Linked DNA regions of Homo sapiens: all the other regions are reported to be linked to region 1. Evidence: microRNA targets listed by miRTarBase, many of them from high-throughput screens and not tested one by one. Region 1 holds a microRNA gene; each other region holds the end of a gene's coding sequence.

What was found. Region 1 holds the annotated microRNA hsa-miR-1287-5p (UGCUGGAUCAGUGGUUCGAGUC, at 2,053-2,074, shown strand). A microRNA usually pairs through its seed, bases 2 to 8, with sites in the 3' UTR of a target mRNA and lowers its output. Matches are read on the target gene's strand: a 7mer-m8 pairs with bases 2 to 8, a 7mer-A1 pairs with bases 2 to 7 and ends in A, and an 8mer does both.
Region 2: the mRNA of ROBO1 is a reported target of hsa-miR-1287-5p. Seed matches in the 3' UTR shown: 7mer-A1 at 5,819-5,825.
Region 3: the mRNA of GNG12 is a reported target of hsa-miR-1287-5p. Seed matches in the 3' UTR shown: 7mer-A1 at 4,487-4,493.

What each region holds. Positions count from the first base shown.
Region 1 is chr10:98,390,145-98,397,344 of GRCh38, reverse strand. It overlaps MIR1287 (microRNA 1287), which reads left to right and starts at 2,038; the gene lies at 2,038-2,127. It overlaps PYROXD2 (pyridine nucleotide-disulphide oxidoreductase domain 2), which reads left to right. Exons shown (of 16, transcript NM_032709.3): 7 at 1,893-1,954; 8 at 2,052-2,149; 9 at 4,262-4,403; 10 at 4,779-4,913; 11 at 6,263-6,335; 12 at 6,591-6,747. RefSeq lists an enhancer at 5,788-5,837.
Region 2 is chr3:78,592,842-78,600,041 of GRCh38, forward strand. ROBO1 (roundabout guidance receptor 1) reads right to left here. Exons shown (of 31, transcript NM_002941.4): 31 at 4,398-6,086. The coding sequence ends at 6,072. Among named protein-coding and RNA genes, the nearest start is that of LINC02077, 550 kb to the left of the region's middle.
Region 3 is chr1:67,698,962-67,706,161 of GRCh38, reverse strand. It overlaps GNG12 (G protein subunit gamma 12), which reads left to right. Exons shown (of 4, transcript NM_018841.6): 4 at 586-4,687. The coding sequence ends at 711. Among named protein-coding and RNA genes, the nearest start is that of GADD45A, 17 kb to the right of the region's middle.

The DNA.
Region 1 (7,200 bases):
GTAAGTCCAAGTGCAGGCACCAGGGCATGATGAGTGACCTTCAAGGAGGTGAGCCCATTGTCTCGATGCCTAGACACAAGCCTGAACCTCCATGGCAGCCTGCCAGCTGGGATCAGTTAACATGCTGCGATCAATTAGGGGCAGCCTGGAGCACTTTGTTGAGAGCATCTTAGGCTGATATGCCTTTAAAATAGAGCCTGAGACCAAGGCTTATGCGTGGGTAGTTCATTTGGAAGGGTGACCCCAAGACACAAAAATAGCAGAAAGTTGGGGTGAAAGTGGACAGAGAAAGAGTCAATACCAGAGTGTGTGATCGCACTAGCCAGCACTGTGGGTGACAAGATGCTGGACCTGTGTGGGCCCTCTGGGAAGCCTTATGAAAAGCATTTGAGGAACCTTCTCGGGAGATGGAAAGGGAAATATTTATCCATTGGGTTCTATCTCCCATTGGCCAAGGGTTGCCTCACAGGGCATTGACTCCCACACTTCTGGGCTGTGCATCTGTGGGTGCCAAGTAGGTTCCCATGAGTGCCCTGCCCTGGTGCCAGAGAAGCCCTAGGGAAGAAGTAGAGAGGCTCACTTTTCAGGACTGAAGTGAGTTGCTGTGGAGTTGCCTGTGTGAAGCTGATCAAAGCCTGCTTGGAGCTCAGCATCATGGCTGTGGCTAGAATAAGATATAGGGGCCAAGAGATTTGAAGAGCTGCCCCCATACAGGAAGAATGCTAGATTTGGGCTCAGCAAGGAGAAGTTCTGTGATCAATTAGTAATGTCTGCCATGAGTATGCGAATGGAAGGCTCATTAAGTGTGCTATTATTTTCTACCCTCCTTGAGGGTATACAGACCAGTTTAACCTCTATATCCTAGAAAAAAAATCATTTGTTTCCCACATGTCTTCGTGGTTCAGCTGATTCCAGCTGGCTCAGCTGATCTGGTTTGGTCTCAGGCATGTGTTTGTGTCTGCAGCAGCTCAGTGGAGGCAGCTCTGCTCCAGGTACCTCTCGTCCTCCTTGTAGAAGCACATGCTGACCTGGGTGTGGACTTTTCACATCAGTGGCACAAGCACAGAGGGCATGCCCCAATGTACAGGCCTGTTTCAGTTCTGGGTTTGTGTCACATCGGCAAACATTCCACTGGCTGACCAAATCACATGGATGAGCCCAGAGCCAAGGAGCCAGGCAGGTTAACCAAGTTGTGGTGGGTTGAGAGGCACTGCAGACTTATACATTGCAAAGAGTATGGAGCCAGTGGAATCTATTACAAATGCAAAAAGTAGACACTGCCTCTCTCTCAGATAACCAGTCCAAGGAGCTCTGTGTGAAAAACAGGCAAAAAACATTTATTGAGCAACTACTATGTGTCAGACACTAAGCTAGGCCCAGGGGCTGTAAGGCTAGAGACCATGATTTCTACCCTGAAGGCCTTAAAGCCTAGTTTCTTTCTGAAATGGTCTGAATCAGGGTCATAGGAATGGATCAGCCATGCCAGCCTTCTCCCAGGATATGGGCCTTCCAGAGTTCGAAATAAGGGAATAAGGTACAAGTTTAAAATTTTCCAAAAATAATGCTAACTGCTTAAATGTATTAAGTACCCATGAACTTGCAAATGCTTTACCTAGCTCATTTAATCCTCACCGTAGCCCTTGGGGTGTAAAATAGGATTCCCATTTTACAGGTAAAGAAGCAGGTTCAGAGATGTTAAAAATGTGTCCCAGGCACTGCAGCTAGTGAGAGGTGTGGCCAGGACTCAAGCTGGATCTGTCCCTGCATTGGCTGTGCTATACCACCTCCTGGCAGGAAGTCTCAGCATCCTCCATGCTTTTATCCCCCAGGCCAGGTCGGAGGGTTTCCCTGTCACCTGTTTCAACTTCTGTTTTGTGGATCTTCTCTTGTAGGCCGCATCCTGGGAGCCCAGCTTCCCCGATATTATGAGGTCCTCACAGCTCCCATTACCAAGGTGAGTGGTTCCCCAGCCTCAGGCCCGACCAGGCAGTGAGAGGGCCCTCCTCCCATCCAGGCTCCTAAGCCCTTCTCTCTGCTGTTGTGCTGTCCAGGTGCTGGATCAGTGGTTCGAGTCTGAGCCTTTAAAAGCCACTCTAGCCACAGATGCAGTGATTGGAGCCATGACAAGTCCCCACACTCCGGGGAGTGGGTGAGTGAGGGGGGTGAGGTGGGACACAGGAGTGGGGCATGTTCCCCAACAGGAGTGAGGACAACAGTGGCAGTGGCAGCAACAACAGCTGCCACTTAACAGAGCTCACCCAGTGAGCCAGGAACCGAGCCAGGCACATCACACACGATCCACTTAACCCTCAGAGCAACATCTGAGAACTGCGGTTCAGAGAAGGGAGTGTCTTGCCCAAAGCCACTCAGCTGGTAAGTGGCAAGGCTGATTTCCAGCTTGAGGTGTCTGACTCCCCAAAATCTTCCTTTTTAGTGACTGTGCCCTACTGCTTCACTAAGAAAAGCCTCTCTCCCACCTCCCGCTTGATAGCTCAAAATTAATATCTTCTTTTCTCTCCTCTTCCCTTCCCTCTTCTACCTCTCCACTCCCGCAAACGCCCATTCTCCCTTCTCTCTCACTGTTCCTTCCCCTGGGCTCTGGTACACACTCACACAGACACCTCAGGATGGACAGGAAGCTGCCTTTTTCTTTATGAGTGAGGGTTTGTGCTGACAGCCCAATCCGAGAGGTGGCAGTCAGACACAGCAAAGCCTGCAGTGTGGTCTGACTTAATGAGCCCCCGCAGAAGCAGGAATGGAAGGCTGTGTGTGTGTGTGTGTGTGTGTGTGTGTGTGTGTGTTGGGATGGAGAATGCAGCCAAGGGTTGGGCCGTTTCCAGTGCACCAGAAGATACAGCTAGAAGCTAGAAGCTAGAAGGCGTCGACGTGGCTTTTCTCTCAAGGGATGAGCACACCCTCGGAAGTGGTTTTTCAACACATATTAAGCCGGCCCCAAATTCCCCCAGGGCGATGGAGATGGGGGCTTGGCAGCAGTTGCCACACATTGGCCAAGCTGTGATCTACCAGCCAATCTGGATCTTCCAGCTGGGGCCTCCTGCCCTTTTCTCTTCGGATCCCTGGGAGGCTTAACCAGTGCTCCGTTTGTGATCTTTAAGTAATCTGTTCCATCATTAATTCTTCCAACAAATATGGATGAGCGCTTGCCTGTGCTAGGTGCTGGGGATACGGTAGTGAGCGGAGCAGATGTCCTGATGGGTGAGAGACACAGAGCGAGTGATGATGATGAAGTGGCGTGAGTGTGATGCTAGGAGGAGCAGCCGGGACACAGCCTGGTCTAGGGTCAGAGAAGCCTCTACATGGAAGAGGTGTTTGATCTGAGACCCAAAGGACAAAGAGGAGTTAACAAAACATAAGATGAGGGAGGGAGGGGCTTCAGGCCGACAGAACAGCAGGGGAAATGCTGGGGTTGAGAGAACGTGTGATCCACCCAGGAAATCGAGAGGTTCTGTTAGTTAGGAGGATGGGATATGGATAGGGGGACAGGATGAGGGATGAGGCTGGAGTGCCTGCTAGAAGACTGGCCATTATCCTAAGAGCAGTGCCAAGCCGGGGAGGCTTGGAATGGTGATAAGTGAGTGGCAGGAGCAGAGCTGGGCTTTAAGATAGGGCTCCAGGATATATGTGGACAAGACCTGCAGGAGAGAAAGTGTGGGAGAGGGGGTCCAATGAGGGGCACTACTGCAGCAGCATAAGGAAGAGAAGAGAGGCTGAGAGGTGGGATGACCTTGAAAGCCCTTTGGAGGCTGAGTTGGTGTTGCTTTGTGGATGTAGATGGGGAAGGATGGTAGCGGTCAAGGCTGACACCTGGATTTCTGTCGGAAACAGAACCTCCTGTTGAAAGGTGCCGTTCACTGGGATGGGAAAGATTGAAGGGGAAGCAGCTGGAGAATGGGGAAAAGGTGGTGGGTTTAAGATGCTGCCAAGAAAGGGTCCAAAGGGAGATATCTGTGGGTAGCTGGACACCGGAGCTGGAGCTCAGGAGAGGGCTGGAGCTGCAGGTTTGGGCATCGTTGCCTTCTTTGTGGTAATAAGCTATGCACATAGACACACTTGTTAGGGAGAGGGTGTAGAGAAGGCAAAGGGCTCTTACAAGAACTTGAGCTCATTGAAGGCTGCTGGGAGAGGGCTGGATGGTGGCAGGGAAGGGCTGAAGATCAAGATGGAAAGGAATAGTTGCACCTGGAACTCTGGGGAGATGAGATCCCACCTCCAGGATCTGAGTCGGATGGTCTGTCCACAGGTATGTGCTGCTGCACCATGTGATGGGGGGCCTGGAGGGAATGCAGGGGGCCTGGGGCTACGTCCAGGGGGGCATGGGTGCCCTCTCTGATGCGATCGCAAGCTCAGCCACCACACATGGAGCAAGCATCTTCACTGAAAAGGTGAACGGCCCCTCTACCCCACCCCAATTATTAGTAAGGATCCCAGGACAGAACAAAGTCTCAGATTTGGAAGGTCCCTTGTTTTACCAATGAACAGAGGGGCCATGAGGGGATGGGTTGCAGAATCAAGAGATTAAGGTCATGCAGTCTGTTAGTGGCTAACCACCCCCTTGGAATTCCCTGGTCACTGAACTGAGACTGAGTGTTTCATGGAGAAGCTGAGGCTTCATGGAGAAGCTGCAGAACTTGGTGGGATGGGTTTGGGATGAAGAAGTTGTGAATGCCTAGGAGCAGCACAGACCATGGAAATCCCGGAAGATCTAACATGGATTTCCCTTCCTGCGGTTTCTGGGGCCTTGTTCTGGTGGGCTCTAGACAGTGGCGAAGGTGCAGGTGAACAGTGAAGGCTGTGTTCAAGGAGTTGTGCTGGAAGATGGCACAGAGGTGAGAAGCAAAATGGTGCTGTCCAACACATCACCGCAGATCACCTTCCTGAAGCTGACGCCACAGGTGAGGCTGTGGGCAGGAGGGTGGAGCTTAGATGTCTGCCAAAACAGGGGTTAGAAATCGTGGGGATTGAGGGAGCCAGGATTGCATCAGGGTGTGAGATGCAAAAGCCAAGTCTCTGCATTTGGGAAACAGGGGGGTAAGGGCAGGTAGCAAACGGGGAAGAAGCCTCACAGGTGGGGAGAAGGGGCCAGAGAGGTGAAGTGACCAAGATTCCGGCCATTGGCAGAGCCAGAGCTAGAACCCAGGTCTGACTTTCAATCTAGAGTTATTTCCACAACTTTCCTACTTTCCTGATTTCTCCCCTCTCACCGCTCTAATTCCATTGTCTTTGTCAATGATCTGTTATATTATCCATGATTATTAATTAATCAATTAACAAAGAGCCACAATACTTCTGGGCATACAACAAGAAATACTGGCACCCAGAACTGGAGACTTCAGTTGATCTTGGTGGATTTCAGCTGCTTAAGGCTTGCTCATGCGTCTGCAGTTGGCTGTGGGTCAGCTTGCCGGCTGCTGATCTTGGCGGGACTCCTTCATGTGCCTGGGAGCTGGCTGGTGGTGGCTGGTCCAGGACCGTTTCTGCTGGGATGACCGGGTGGGGGACTCGGCTATGCTCCATGTGTCTGTCCTCCTCCAGCACGGTAGTCCAGGCATGTTCTCAAGGTCTGGCAAAGGGCAAAAGCAGGCAAGCTCAAGCATGCATGCAAGCATCACATGGTTTGATCTCTTTGCATCCTGTTTGCTAGCATTGGCCAGACCAAGTCTCATGGCCAAGCCTAGAGTCAGAGTGTGAGAGCACTGCAAGGTTACACGGAAGTGGGTGTGCAAACAGGGAGGGGTGAGCTTTGGGGGCAGTTTTTGCAATTGACTTACCCTGTGCTCAAAAGATATGATAACATGTATACGCACATGAAGCTCCTAGCCATTCTTGGGGGCAATTCTTAGGGGCAAAGCACTACTTTTTCTGAGTGATTCCATTACTAAAATTCAACAAACATCAGTAAAAAGAAACTTGTTAAGGCAATTCTGAGATCGTCGAGGCTTCCAAGAGCTTACAGACCAGTAGTGAAAAGAGGCCTGCAAACCACTGACCCCTTTGCAAGCAGGGAGAGGTGCGGACTATTTCACAGTCAGAACTGCTGGCCAAGCGCGGAGGAGGAAGTGGTTAGAGCTGAGTGGGAGGGGATCTAGGAAGGCTTCACAGGGGAGGTGGTTTTGGCTGAGCTTTGAAGGATGAAGAGGATTTCCGGAGGGAGCGACTGAGGGATCTTCCTGAGCAAAGAAAGAAGGCAGCTTCCTTGGGGCCTTGGACATCTGAGGCCTTTCATGGAGCCTTCTCCTTCCAGGAGTGGCTTCCTGAGGAGTTCCTGGAGAGAATCTCTCAGCTGGACACCCGGTCGCCTGTCACCAAGATCAATGGTAAGAGGCACACCACATTGCAGCACTGTCTCCTTTGACCCATCTGAGTGAGAAACCTCCAGGCTGGGGGCAGCTGAACTCAGTCATCATCTCCATTCCCGGACCTCCAGCCTGTGTCCCCCTGCAGCCTGGTCAGAAGGTGAAACACTTGCTCATACTTTCCTACTCCCGTCCGCCACTGAGGGTAGCAGGGTGCTGGCTGTAGAGGGAGGACCTTGTGGGGCTAAGACCTGACCCTCCTCTTTGGTCCCTCAGTGGCCGTAGACAGGCTGCCCAGCTTCCTGGCGGCCCCCAATGCTCCCAGGGGCCAGCCGCTGCCCCATCACCAATGCTCCATCCACCTGAACTGTGAAGACACCCTCCTCCTTCATCAGGCCTTTGAAGATGCCATGGATGGCCTGCCTTCCCACAGGTAGGGGCCCTGGACTTTATGTTCCCTGATGTTCTTCCACATGGGCCTGGGAGGCGGGGCTGTCCATGCCACCCACAGCAGGGATCAGGCCTGGTGTTCAACCTTCACAGTGACTTAGGATCTGCCAAAATCCATACTCCTAAGGACAGGAAGTGCATCCCAGGTGAAAAATCTGAGGATGAGGGCAGGTAAGGGGTGAAGAGCGGCTCAGGTTAGCAGAAGGGGCAGAGGGGCAGAGCACTGCCCAGGAAAGTGCTGGGGCTGGGGAAGAAGAGGAGAAAATGTGTTCTGGGAGAGCAAAGGAAGTTCTCTCATTCAGAGCCCGTCAGAGAGCACGCACTCACCGAGTCCCCTGCTCCGTAGCCTTTCTTTTTCTGATAATCTGCCTTCTTGCAAAACTTCTAAAAGCATTTCCCACCTCCCACTGCAGCTGTATTTCCATTCTTCTGGAAC
Region 2 (7,200 bases), not on the chromosome of region 1:
CAAAGTTGAAGAGCTCAGAGTTTTTCCCAAACAGAAAGAGAATTTCTGAAAGAGGGAAGATTAACTTAGATGTGGAGCTAGTGATTTATGTCAAAGATTTGAATTTTAAAAAGAAGTACCTGTATTAGGCAGTTCAAGCTTCTGTAACGAAGTCCCATAGACAGGGTGGCTTGTAAACAAGAGAAATGTATTTCTCACAGTTTTGGAAGCTGGAAGTCCAAGATCACAGGGCTAGCATAGCTGACTTCTGGTGATAGCCCTCTTCTGGGTTGCAGACTGCTGACATTTCCTTGTTTCATTGCAGGAAGAAGAAAGAGCTCTCTAGGGTTGCTTTTGTTTGTTTGTTTGTTTGTTGTTGTTGTTGTTTTTTATAAGAGCACTAATCCTATTCATGAAGCCTCCACCATCAAAACCTAGTTACCTCCCAAACGCCCCACATCCTAAAACCATCACATTGGGGGTTAGAATTTTAACATATGAATTCAGGGAGGACATAAACATTCAGTCCCTAACAGTATCCAATCTATGTAAATATAATGAGTCCAATATAAGGCAATGGGATTGTATACATGTTACTTTTTAATGTAATTTTCATTGAATTTAAAAACTTTGTGTGTCACTGTGAAATGCTACCAATTTTTGTCATGATATAATGTCTCAACGATAGTTTTGCAAAACACATAAATTGGTTACACCATGCTCAACTTTGCTTGAAACTTTTTTTCACTTTATTTTGAGGAATTTCATAATTTTACTGGCCTTCAATAACATTGTATATGTGTGTGTGCATATATGTGTGTGTTGGAAGGCACAACTTGAATTACTGTGGATATTTTACTTTCTGTGGTACTGTAAAGCTTGTTGCTTTGCCAGAAAATGCGTAACTGGTTATTCCTCTAAGGATCCAAGTCACATCTCAATGGTGTTTCTCCATGCTTTTTGCTCGTTTTGTTTCAATGCTAATACTGTAAAAAAATTTTCAAAATATGTTAAATGTCAATTAAATTCAACACCTATAGTACCAGAAATTGATAACTGGTAAAAACTCCACCAATGTGAAAGTAATTTGAATACCTATAACTAACTTCATATGTGTACATTATGAAGGAAAATTTATCTTAAATCTGAAAAATGGTAAATTAATGATTGCTTGATTTTTATTACCATACTAAAACATTTTCCAATAATCCTGCCAGCAATAGATGCCTTTGAGGTTTTGCTAGGGCCAAAAGTTCCCTTTGATCCCAGACTCACCTCATTTTGGCACCTTCCCAACTCAACTACCTGCCATGTGCATGTCTTCTTTCTGCCTTAGGGTCTTCCATTCACACTTGGTCTGCTCACTAGTACCGGGAAGTGAAATCCCCTGCCCCGCCTGCAGCCTGAAACCTTCAGCTAATGGGGAATAATTTTGGGCTACTGTCCTTCAGTGAAAAGTTCTGTTAGGCATTCTGTGTGCTCCTGGGAAGAGCCGGTAGAGTACCTGGTAGAGGCACCTTCACCTACTTTGAAGGATCTATATTGAATTTTATTCCCCTCACACTCCCACTTCCTGGGATTCTATCCCAAATAAACTGTTTGCATCCAAGTCTTTGTCGCAGGCTCTGCTTCTGGGGAAACATGAACAAGAGTAAGTCACTGTCGAACCTTTATCTGATTCTCCTGAGTGAATGTAAATTACCAAGGTATATTTTCGACAGATAATTTCCAAATGATAAAGGTGGCCGACTTCAGACTTCCTGTAGTCTTGAAGGTTAATGGTTATTTAACCTAAAGAAAAAGATAGATGTCATGACTCTCTAGCCCAGTAAAAATTAGTATCATGTTTGTATTGCCCTGTAGAAAGTTTACTAACTCGGCTGGGTGCGGTGGCTCACGCTTGTAATCATCTCAGCACTTTGGGAGGCTGATGTGGGTGGATTGCCTGAGGTCAGGAGTTCAAGACTAGCCAGGCCAACATGGTGAAACCCCGTATCTACTAAAAATACAAAAATTAGCCGGGCATGGTGGCGGGCACCTATAATCCCAGCGGCTCAGAAGGCTGAGACAGGGAGAATTGCTTGAACCCGGGAGGTGGGGGGTTGCAGTGAACCAAGATCATGCCATTGCACTCCAGCCTGGGTGACAGAGTGAGACTGTCTTAAAGAAAAAAAAAAAAGAAAAAGAAAAAAAAGAAAGTTTACTAACTCAGCCATCATAGTTAAGTTTCTTTCACAGCTGCCATTTGACTGCTCTTTGTCTTTCTGCTGTTTACTGTATTAACGAGGTAAACAAAAGTTTGATGCATGCTCTGTTTCTTTGAGGCTTATGTTTTTAAACAGCGAGCAATGAAAAGGTGAAAGTGATTGTGAGACACTAATGCCTATAAGATTCATTTCAGTTTCAGCTGTACTACGATGAAACTTATCTTTGAGTTGTTAGGGTGGTAGCTACCAAACTATTTTTAACATAAATAGGATTGCCTCCAAAATGCAAATTATTAGGCTCTTTTCTTCAAAACTGCAGAAGTTGCTCTCACCCCTTCCCTCAACCAACACACAGTCCAAATGCAGCAAGCAGTTTAGGGGCCATTGTAGTATCTTGTGAGACCCCAAGGAAGTCTCAAGTCCTTAGAGCCCCAGCATGGCACAGAAGAGCATATGGAACTCTCCTTCCTTACTCTTTACACCCACCCTACATTGAAGGACTTAGAAGTATCAGGAGAGGATCAATGGATAATAAGAGGCATTAAGGTTGGGAGAAGAGGATACAGAGTAAAGTTCTGACAAAAATGAAGATCATTTAATGAAACTTGGCCAACAGCAATCCCCAAAGCCGCCTGCTTCCTGACCACCCACACATTCTACACATGGGGACAGCTCTGAAATTCAGATGTCACTGTGTGCAAAGAAGAAATCCAGACTATATATGAAATAATCAAAAAAGCCAGGTATCGTCGATTTCACCTGGAATTAAGATTATATCTTCTGCCACTAGGCAGAATAGCAGCCCAAAATAAACAACGAGTTTAATTGTTGAGAACTCCTGTCTGTACCCACGAATTGTGAAATGTGTGCTGCAGACACCATAACACCACCCGCTGTGTGGCCCTCGAATTCAAGAGCAACAAAACAAACAAAAACACCAATTATTTATTCCACAATTAGGAATTTCACAGTGAATTTTACTCACCGGAAATGAAACCACCCTCATCCTGGTACCACACTTATTCTTTGACTTTCGTGCAAATACTCAGAAACAAACTAGGTATGAAAAGCAGGGATTGCATGTGTAATGAATTTCAGTCCATAAATATAACAATATCTTGTATCATTGATGGAGTTTACAGAGTCCATATCATACACATTAACTCACTGAATCATGACAACGGCTCCATGAGGTAGGTATTATTGAATTTACAGGTGAAGTACCTGAGACTTAGAGGTTAAGTAACATCTCCGAGGAAACACAGCTGTGACAAAACTGCGACTCAAACCCAGGTCCTCTGATATACAGAATCGGTATGTATTATCACATATTATAAATAAAGAGAGAGACTAACTTATATTTATAGTCAACTCACCAGGGGTAAGAGAGAAATTACGTCACTACACATGTCCCTCTAATTTTTCCTTAAAGTAGCTTTTAGAAATTGACTTCTTGACCTGTGGACCTGTTCATCTTTAAGTAGATGCTGGTGATTACTTCATTTTTATAAAATTAAATTTCAGATTAAACCCCTTTTTTTCACTGTTTTCCCTCATATTTTCAAATTCTGATAAACACAAAATTTAGGTAGAAGAGCAATATATATGTGAAAGGGAAAAAACCTACATCAGATTCTGTTGCTCTTGGAACTTCCAAGACATGGTGCCCATATTGTTCATCTAAAGTTGAATACCTGGATACACTAACTAACTTTAATAATGTATAACCTGGTATATGATAGGTATTGTTAAAATTTTACGTGAATTCGTAACAAGAAAGCAGATAGTTACTGATAAGCATTTCAGAGTTATATAATTAATTTTCTTGCTGACAGAACATAGGTGGCTCAAACTTTACAAATCACATTTATCTAGTTGAATCCCAATTATTTTAGAAATAGATGAAATAGATTAACTGAAACTCAGATACACATACATAAACAAAAATAATATACCCTTAATATTAAAGAAGACTTAGTCTCTGATCCAATTATTCACTTCTAGGTCTTGACTGATCTTACATTTTTAATTTCAGAGGACTTAGGTAAAATTTTGCTTACAGTAAAGCCTGGTTATTCATACAACTAATTGAGAATTTTCACTCATCTGATAATACAGGGGTGAAATGTTAAGACAGAACGACTTTGTGATTAAATGGAATAAATTTGATCAGCACACAATGAAAAAAGAAATCAACACAAGAAAGAAAGATGTATTTGAGAACATTTTTAATAAATAATGTGACAAAATTACTTTTCTGATTATTGGATTTTCAGTATGCAAAATTATGGCTAAAAATAAGGGGCTTCTTACATGAACATAATGAAAACATTAATCACATGGATTGTTCCCTTAGTACTGCACGCCTTTTCTATGGAACTTTTTCAAATTATCTAAATGAACAAGTTTGGTTTTGGTGAACACCAGCCTTTTTTTTTGTGGTTCAGTTTTGTTTGGCTTTGTTTTCCACTGGGGTCAGACCTGATACTTATCTATCTATGAATAAATGTACATTTTTTTCTTCAAATAGCACCAATTATAAAATCAATGATATTCATAAAATGACAAAAAAGGATCATAGAAATCTACTAGTCAGAGGGCATCATTTGTCAATTGAAAGCAAGTAATGCCTCTATTAGAGATTTTAAGGAAATCTTGTAGGTTTCGACATTGGCCACAACAAACTTAAACCTCTTTTTTTCTTTAAGTCCAGGAAAAGTAAGAACCATTTGGTTCATGGCCCACAATAAAGTATGCATGTTACTTCACCATCTGTCATTATTCAAATATTCCAAATACAAACATAGAGCATTAACAAAACAGGTTAAAAACGCTTCTCAACATTTTTTTTTTCAATAAGACAAAAAAGGTTAATAGTTACAATGGTTTACAAATAAAGTTTAGTGATTGTGCTTTTAAAACCAAAAAAAAAAAAAAAAAGAGAGAGAGATTAAAAACAGTGCATTACAAAAACAAAAATCAAACTTCCTTAAGTGGCACTTCTGAAAGTTGAACTGACACTACCAGAAGAAATTTAGGCCAGTTAAGACAGGGATGTTCTTACTCAATTGGTCATTAAAAACATCCACTTGTTTGTAATACGTATTTATAATTACTTTTTGATGATTGAAAAATAGAACAAGGTTTTACTAGGTTTACTTATGACAATGACTAGACAACCAGAGATCCAACTGGCTTAGCCCTACTTATCCAAAAGTACATTTCCAATAAGAATATACTTCAATGATTGAAATGAAGCCAAAATAAAATACCACCAGGGTTTGCAAAGAGTAAATATTTACAATGTTTCTACCCCATTCGAATTGTTTGTGGTTCTGCATTTGCTATATTTTTAGTTTCTTCCAGCAAAGGGTAGTATGAAAAACTGATTTTGAAATCATGTTAAAATGAAATATGTTTTAATTTGCATTAGCAGTTGGCTATAGAAAGATTATACTTTGAGAGCCCTTGTGAGGTTGAATATCAACTTTCTATATTTGATCAATATCTTGCTATAAATTAGCTTGGCATATAAGCAGTGCAATGCCATATCTCAGCGGCAAAATGCAAAAGAACAGTTTTGTTCCCTCTTGCTGGCTGATGACTGAAGCAAGAAGTCAAAGCACTTTGCTTGCTGGAAGTAAGGTATAATGGTTTGCTCCAACAGCGAGGGGAATAGGAAGGCTCTTTGTAGGGTTAGGGATCAAACAACAACAATAAAAACCCAATAAAGTTTTTAAAATGATATCCCAATAAGAGGAATAAAAACGACAATTTGTACACTCTGATTGCACTGAACATTTTATCTGGCGTCATGTGTCATCTGACAGGAGGCATCTTGAGTGATGATTTTCACATTAGATCTCATAAGCCTCTTGGTTGTCTTCAGCTTTCAGTTTCCTGTAAGAGATACGTTATTGTCACATTTGAAAATAAATCTTAAGAGGATTGTGTTATATTTATTTATATGCATTTATTATTATTATAATTTAATGTGTCTTTTCATTTATTCAATGGACTATGTTGGAAAGGGCTCATGTCAACTAATTCATTCATCAACCTTAATTGGTCTTCACAGCAAATTCAACAAGTACCAAACTGGGTTCTGCACAGTGCCCCGGTGTTGCGTGGTGGGACACAGGGCTCTGAGAAGCGGGAAGGAATGTGTTGAGTTATCTAATCCCCTCAGCCCCAAGTCAACATTACAACTCTGCTTTTGTTGGTTTTAAATACTGGAGTTAACAGTAAGGCCATTCTGTTCCCCCAAAAGGCTACTTCTATTTTAAAATAAACTAAGACCTGAAAAACAACTTCTCTGTTTGCAGGAGGAAAGTCTTTCTCATTCTAAACCTCAAAATCGAAATACATTGAGCTTTATAGGACTTTCAATTAGACATAATGGCCTATACCTTTTCAGCTTCTACTATAAAAAGTTGTCATTTGACACGTATTTATCTACTTGAGTTTAACTATATTTATTAAAAAATTTTCCTCAACTTTTATTAAATTGAGAAAATACAATCTTTGAATGGGTGAGGGGAGAATTTATGATATGTCAAGGCTAACAAGAGAGTATATCTTTGACGTAAGAAGTTTCCTCCAACTGGGGAGGTCAGTGTCACAGACTAGGCATACACTTTCAGAAGTGTAAAGGTGAAGGACAGTTAGCCAAACCAGCCACATTACCCTGGTGCTGACTATGGCAACTTCCTCACTCACATCATATAACTCTGTCATCTTACTGGGTTTTTATAGCCTGCTACAATGCTATGAATTATAATAGCTCTAGATCAACAGCTCTTACTTCTTAACAATGTGTTTGCCATATATGTTTCTTATCTGAAAATCTGCAAATGAAGATAAACCCTAGCTAAACAAATAAACTGCCATTAACATTTAAAACTTTGGGACACATTTCAAGAAAATTCTCAAATTCTCAGAACTTCAGTTTCTGCCATCATAGACATTAGAGTACTGAAAAGTTTGCAATAAAACAGTAACATTTCTGTACACT
Region 3 (7,200 bases), not on the chromosome of region 1:
CAAACATTTATAAACCGTTTACCAGGATTCACCAGTTTTTAACATTTGACCACATGTACTTGCTTGCACTGTCTCTCTCCCTCCTTCTGTCTGTACACACATACACACAAAACATATATAATGTCTTCTTTAAACCCTTGAAAGTTATTTGCAGTTCAGGATTATCTAATAAGAATACCTCACACACAGTCCATTTTTGAAGAATCCAGGCCACTTATTTTGCAGAATCACCCTCACTTCGGGTGTGATCGTTCGCTGATTGGACTCCAGTTCAATGTTGGACAGGAATGCTAGCTCATTAGCTGGCGGTGTGTCCTCAGCACTCCCATGAAGGGATACATGGTGCCAGTTTGTCTGACCATTGTTAAGTTGCTTGGTTAAGAAAGACCTTACCTGCCAAATTGCACCATTTTAAAGGTACCATTTCCTTTTTATACCTGACAAGAATCTGAGAGTGATGCTTTGAGACTCTGATTATCTTGTTCAAATCAGTCTTCCATTCAATAGCCTAGCATTCAAATACGCTCTGAAAGTGTGCAAGTAAAATATTTTCTTTCTTGTTTGTTTGATTTATCTCCATGTCAGGTTTCGAAGGCATCAGCGGACCTCATGTCCTACTGTGAGGAACATGCCAGGAGTGACCCTTTGCTGATAGGAATACCAACTTCAGAAAACCCTTTCAAGGATAAAAAAACTTGCATCATCTTATAGTGGAATAGAGAAACAGCTCCTCGCCTCTTCCCAACAACGCAAATTATGAGCAGCTCCTTGAAGAGATTTACCTTCAGCTTATTTGGTAACCACTGCTAATAACTAAAATGTTCTCAGCTTGGAATAATGGACTCTGAAGTCTCTATTTTCCAAGTTGTCCTTTCTCTTAAAATACCCTTTACTGATTTAATACAGAATAACAATCTTATTTTCCACTTGGTAACTATGGCTTTATGTTGGGTTACTGTTTAAGGAAAGTTGATCTGGGCCTTTTTAAAAACATAATTATATACTTTAGAAATACAAGGGATTCCGATATGTCAGGACCTAAATGGCCTAAGCACCTGTCAAATTAAAATTCCAAAATTCATTGAAATCCTAAAGCCTTGATATTATATTCTTTATAAGGCGTGTGCCAGCCTGTATAGTATATAAGAGAGAGGGGTGTTTGTGTGTATATATATATGCCTTTGTGTATACACTTATCAAAGCTATTTTCTTATGAAAACGTCCCTCTCTCCATACCATCAGTTTCTCAGTTCCAGAAGTTATACCTTTATTTTGAGCTGTGTATAGGTAGAATAAAAAATTCCTTTCATATCGTTATTGTACAAAAAGTAAAGAGTATCCTAAAGATTGTATTCATTGTAATCAAGTAATGCAATCATCTCTCCTCTCTTGAAATCTTGCTGGACCTCTTAGGCTACAATAAACTGTACCAAACTAAACTGACAGTCCTTCGATAATATGAAACATTAATTTACAAGGACCCGTTAGGGCTTCAATGATGCTGAGTCTGGAAAAGGGGAGGAGACCCTTGGGAGGACTCCAGGCAGCTGTGCTCCCAGGGCTCATGTTCTCTACTGGATTAGGGATAGGCACCTCTGAAATCTCCACCCTGATGATTGGAATGAAACGGAGTGAACATGAGCCCAGCTGAGAGAGGAGCAGGAATGTGTGAAAAACAGCTGCTCTCCTTGTCCCAGCTTTGTGATTGAGCCCTCTGTCTTGCTCTCTCTGCCTTCCCTGTGTCTTTCTTCTCTTACCAGAGCATCTGTTTGCAGAGGTAACATTACCTTCCCCAGCCACAGGTATGTGGAATACGGTGAGGAAAAAAAAAATTAAAAAAAAAATGCAAGCTGTCAGGATGCTTAAGCTCTTTTCAGACATCTGCAGTTTCATCCCTACCTTGTTCACATACCATCCAAGAGGCACATAGGCTACCCAAGAGAGCCTTGGATTCAGTGGTACACTCCTTGGGCCCAAGGGCTTTAGCAGCTGGATATGGGGTTCCTTGATTTTCCTCTGGGCCCAAATATAGCCCTCACACTCTTGGAATTTCCAGGTATGGGGGTAGCCCCAAAAGGAGGAATCTCCTATGGCCAATAAGGTATCTTGACTTTATCAAAGTAGAAGAGAGGGTCACTTCGGAGTCAAATCATACACTAGGCCTTTGATGCTTTAATTCTTCTTCAGTTCATTAAAAGTAACTACTAAGGAAAGGTTAAAAACTTCCCCTCAAAAAGGAATCAACCCCAGGAAGTAATTATTTACAACGATTTTCCCAAATTTTGTACAATCTGTCCTGGAAAGCAAACCCCTTTTAAAATCTAATGTCTGGGCTTTGAGTATTAGCTCATTTAGGGTGGACAAATGCATTACTGTTTTCAAACTGCTCACATTTATTCAGTATTTCTCCAAGTTGCTATCTACTCAGCCTTATGAATGCCCCTCGCTTTTCTAAGGCCATGTGAAAATCACGGCACTGCCCTTAGCCTTGTGTCATCTGCTTTTTCGTTCTGCGATATGCCCAGTTCCCAAATCAATTATAGGTACCTGTTTAGGAGAGAGGAAGATTTTACCTCTCAAAGGGTGAGATTTGAAATTTACACTAAAAAGACAACTTTACATTTAATGCTTCACTTAATGAGACATTCTTTTTTTTATAAGTCTATTTTTCTACTCAGTTTCAGAACACTAATCTGATTTTCACTCTGATTTTTAACGTTTCTTTAAATATTTATAATGTAGCTTCTTTCAAAATATTTTCATGAAAAATTACTTTTATTATACCATTATGTGCATGTTATTGGTAGCAGGCATAGTTTATTATTTAGTACTGAAACATGCTCTTTTACCTAACAGTAAACAAGTATGTTTTGATATATATCTGTTAATATGCTTATAGTGGTAAGAAATGGACTTGAGGTCCCAGGAGATTTCATTTTATTCACCCTGGTCAGATACAATAAAGGCTATGAGTATAAATACATAACTTCCTAACCAGGTGTAGGGCATGTTCATGAATATCAAATCTTTTGATGCTGGACCCAAGAGAGGAAAAGTTGTAGCTAAATGTTGATTTACTTATAACTAGACGTCTATGTGAGAAAATATATGTATACATATATATGATATGCAGAAGTCACTTTTTTTATCAGGCTTTATTCTCCTTACAAAGCCACAGTTTAACTGTCTGCAACAGTTGGTTTATGTTAATGATAGACAAATACCCAGTGTTTGTTACTTTTTCCAACTACCACTGTAATGATAATCTTTCTCACGTATATACATGCAACTTCTTGGCTTCATTTCCATGAAGCTGTTTCAATATATTCAGTATACTTTGTCCTTAATGCTGCTTCTGTTAACAGTGATCTCTTTCTTTTTTTCATTCTTATATCTTCATTAGTTCATCATAAATCTGTCCAGTTGAGGCCTCAGGACCACGGCATGATTTCATGACTCCGAAGTATTTTACAGAAACATTTTTTAAATAAGGGAAATATTTTATATACCAGATGGTTCACAAGTGATGGCTCATAGCTAGTTTTTTTTTTTCTTCTAAAAAATGTCAGGTTTTTAAAATCATTTACCTTATTAAAATGAAAAGTGCCATACTTAACTTTTAAAGGAAAGACCTGACTTGCTTTTTCTCTATTTAGACTGTTTTTGTACTTTACTAATCTTTAAACTATCAGGAAAAAAACCAAAACTTTATACCAATGATTTAGTAATTTTGAGGCATAGGGTAGCTTACGTAGTGGAGGATGTGCCAAATATTCTCTTCAAATGCCACCTTCTCAATTTATAACTAAAATAGTGTTATCTGACTAATTCCTCTGAATTTTGATGTAAGATCTATATAGGCCCCCAAAATGATCGTAGTACATGCCAGTCATTTCTCAGTGAAATAAATACAATACCAGAGTACATTATGGGTTTTATTGCTTTCTTTTATGGTAGACCTGTTAATGGGGAAAAAATACATCAAATCAAATAGAATCTTATATCTGTATGTTAAAATAGAGCACTTACCTGAAGTCAGTGGCCTGGATCATAGCCCTGGATCATTTCCCAGTCTGTCCTGTGCTGTGTGACCTTGGACAAGGCGCTTCATCTCTCTGGGCCTCTATTTCTCCATTTGTAAAACAAGTGGCTGCAGTAGATGATGGCTGAGAGCCCTTCCTGTTCCCAGATGCCTTGGTCCAAAGACCCCACCCCTCTGCTGGTCCTGCCAACGTGTTGGTGCTATAAGCTGCTTCAGATATAAAATTGGTTTATCTATAATGTTTGTTCATTTAATAGCTTCTAAAAGGCCTTTTTGTTATACAGTGCTTTTTTTCTAGTTTTATGGACTTGGTTACTGTAATAATGTCTTGTTTTTAGCCATGTAACTACAAACAGATATTCTCTTGATGTCTTAGTAAATTTGCATTTGATATATCATTGATGAGATTTTGTTGTTATGTAATATTCTTTGGCTACGCATCTGTCCAGCATCTTATTAACCATAATACTGTGATCATTATTTGGAAATATGTCCTATGGAAAGAATAAAAGCATGTACTTCACAGCTAGCATGTTCACAGATTTGAAAGAAGTTTCATTAAAAGCACCATTGCTTTCTGTACTGCGTCAGTGCCTCATTGTATCATCCTACTTGTGTTTTGCTCAATAAATGAATAAAAGACCATTTCTCTTCCCCTTTCCCTTCCTTCACTCAGTTAACATTTTCTGAGCACCTCCTGAGAGCAAGCTGCTGAGAGTCAGGCTCCCATGACACCCAAATGAATAAGACTTACACCAGCCCATGTCACAGTCTGAGCAAGGAGGATGGGAATGACAGATATGTAAACTAATCATCGTAGTATCATGTGGCAAGTGCTATAACTCAGGTGAACACAGAGTGCTGTGAGAGCCCAGAGGAAAGAGGGACTAGCTCCACATCAACAAAGACCTCTAAAAAGGCTTCCAAGGGTGGTGATGTTTGGGCTGAGTGAGAGAAGAACAGTATGCGTTGGAATGAGGTCCTGGGAGGAGATGAGAGGAGGAGAAAAGAGGACTGGAAGCCAGTGTGCAGAAGACCCCCGATCCCGCCCTCCTATCCTGCTTGCCTATCCTGAAACCAACAGGGGAGCTAGAGAGGCTGCTGAGGAGTGACGTAATGACTCTGACCTGTGGAGGGCTGTTTCCCATCCTGAGACTAGCTGAGGTAGTGGAAACTGATAACAAATGGAAAGGTCATTAGATGGTGGTGACTCATATTCACTATGTGTTTGCTGAAGGTGCCCTGCCTCCTCTTCTGCCCCTTCCCCCAGGGCTGGGATTCCCACAGAGATGAGGGGAGGGCAAAATCATCAAAGAACAAGGGCGGGAGGCAGCCAACAAGCCCCAGGCTATGAACCGGACACGCTGCAGAGATGGCCCCTGCTTCTGAGAGCCAGCACTCCACACTTACAAAAGGTAGGGGCAAAAGACAGTCCCTGGGCCCTTTCTAGTAAAAGACTGAAGGATTTAGATACATCGGTTTTGAAAAAGAGGCAACAACTAACAAGCACTTTTTACTGCTTCTGACCAAATTACAAAGTTCTTGTAACTCTCAGTGGAGGAGAGTTGGGGATGATGGATGGGATTGGGTAGGGGTGAGTTTTTAAAAGATGGGGGAAGGGAAGGTAATGAAGCTGGAAGAGGCAGATGAGATGTATACTTAGCCTTAACATGGACAAGAAACCCAGGCCTGCGGGTAGTGATTGGAACTCAGTGTGGAGATGCATGTCATGGGGCTTTCCACCTCTTCTGGATATGTGCCATGATCAGTTTTTCCCTGGCACGAGGGTCAGTTACACATAAACACATGGATATTCCCTCTAAACCTTTTTATTTGGGGCTCTATAATCCTTGTTTGGGGCTAGGCGACCGTCTTTTGAGTATTTGTCCCTCATTCCCTATGCCAGGATTATAATCTGTTGGCTTAAAACTCTGACCATGGCCGGGCGCGGTGGCTCATGCCTGTAATCCCAGCACTTTGGGAGGCCAAGACGGGCGGATCACGAGGTCAGGAGATCAAGACCATCCTGGCTAACACGGTGAAACCCCATCTCTACTAAAAATACAAAAAATTAGCCAGCCTGGTGGCGGGCGCGCCTGTAGTCCCAGTTACTCGGGAGGCTGAGGCAGGAGAATGGCATGAACCCGGGAGGCGGAGCTTGCAGTGAGCCGAGATCGCGCCACTGCACTCCAGCCTGGGCGACAGAGTGAGACTCCGTCTCAAAAAAAAAAAAAAAAAAAAAAAAAACCTCTGACCATCTTTGTGGAGCCTGGTCCCACCGTCAGTTCTAGCTGTCTTTGCACAGCCTGGCATGGCTAGGGCCTTGTGCTTGTTTTCAGAGCGTGACCATATTTGCTACTGTACCCCTTTACCACTGTGAGTAGCAAATAACTTTTGCCTTCAGATGAGCCCTCTGTTACCCTAATTACTTTCTCTTTATCTGAGTCATTTAAATCCATGAAGGTCGTTTAACTTTAGGCCAGCCCTGGGCGACGTGCAGTTAGTCAAAGGAACCCTCACCTCAATTGCCCATTTTTTTCAAAAACTTTTTCTGCCCTGGAGGAAAATGCAGTCCAAGTAAATTTATGCTAATGTGCAAATGAATTAATATATTGGCCTGTGGAGGACCACTGGCACTGTCAAATACAACTCTGGAGAGAGTGATACTTAGCACAAAGAAATGGAAGTTCATAGTAAAGTTTAGGCATCACTGAGAATTAATTGTACATATGAAGCATTCCTATACCCTTTAAATCCTCCTAGACAATCTATTGAATGATGAAAGCACTTAACTGAAATGGTTGACATCCATAATGGAAGATGCCAGGTTTGTAAGTCCAAGAGATTTGCAGCTGAGACATCTATGTGCACAATGATACTTTTTATTTTTATTTATTTATTTATTTATTTATTTATTTATTTATTTATTTATTTTTGAGACCGAGTCTCCCTCTGTCGCCCAAGCTGGAATGCAGTGGTGTGATCTCGGCTCACTGCAACCTCCCCCTCCCAAATTCAAGCAATTCTCCTGCCTCAGCCTCCTAAGTAGCTGGGATTACAGGCATGTGCCACCACGCCCGGCTAATTTTTTTGTATTTTTAGTAGAGACAGGGTTTCGCCATGTTAGTGAGACTGGTCTCAATCCCTTAACCTCAGGA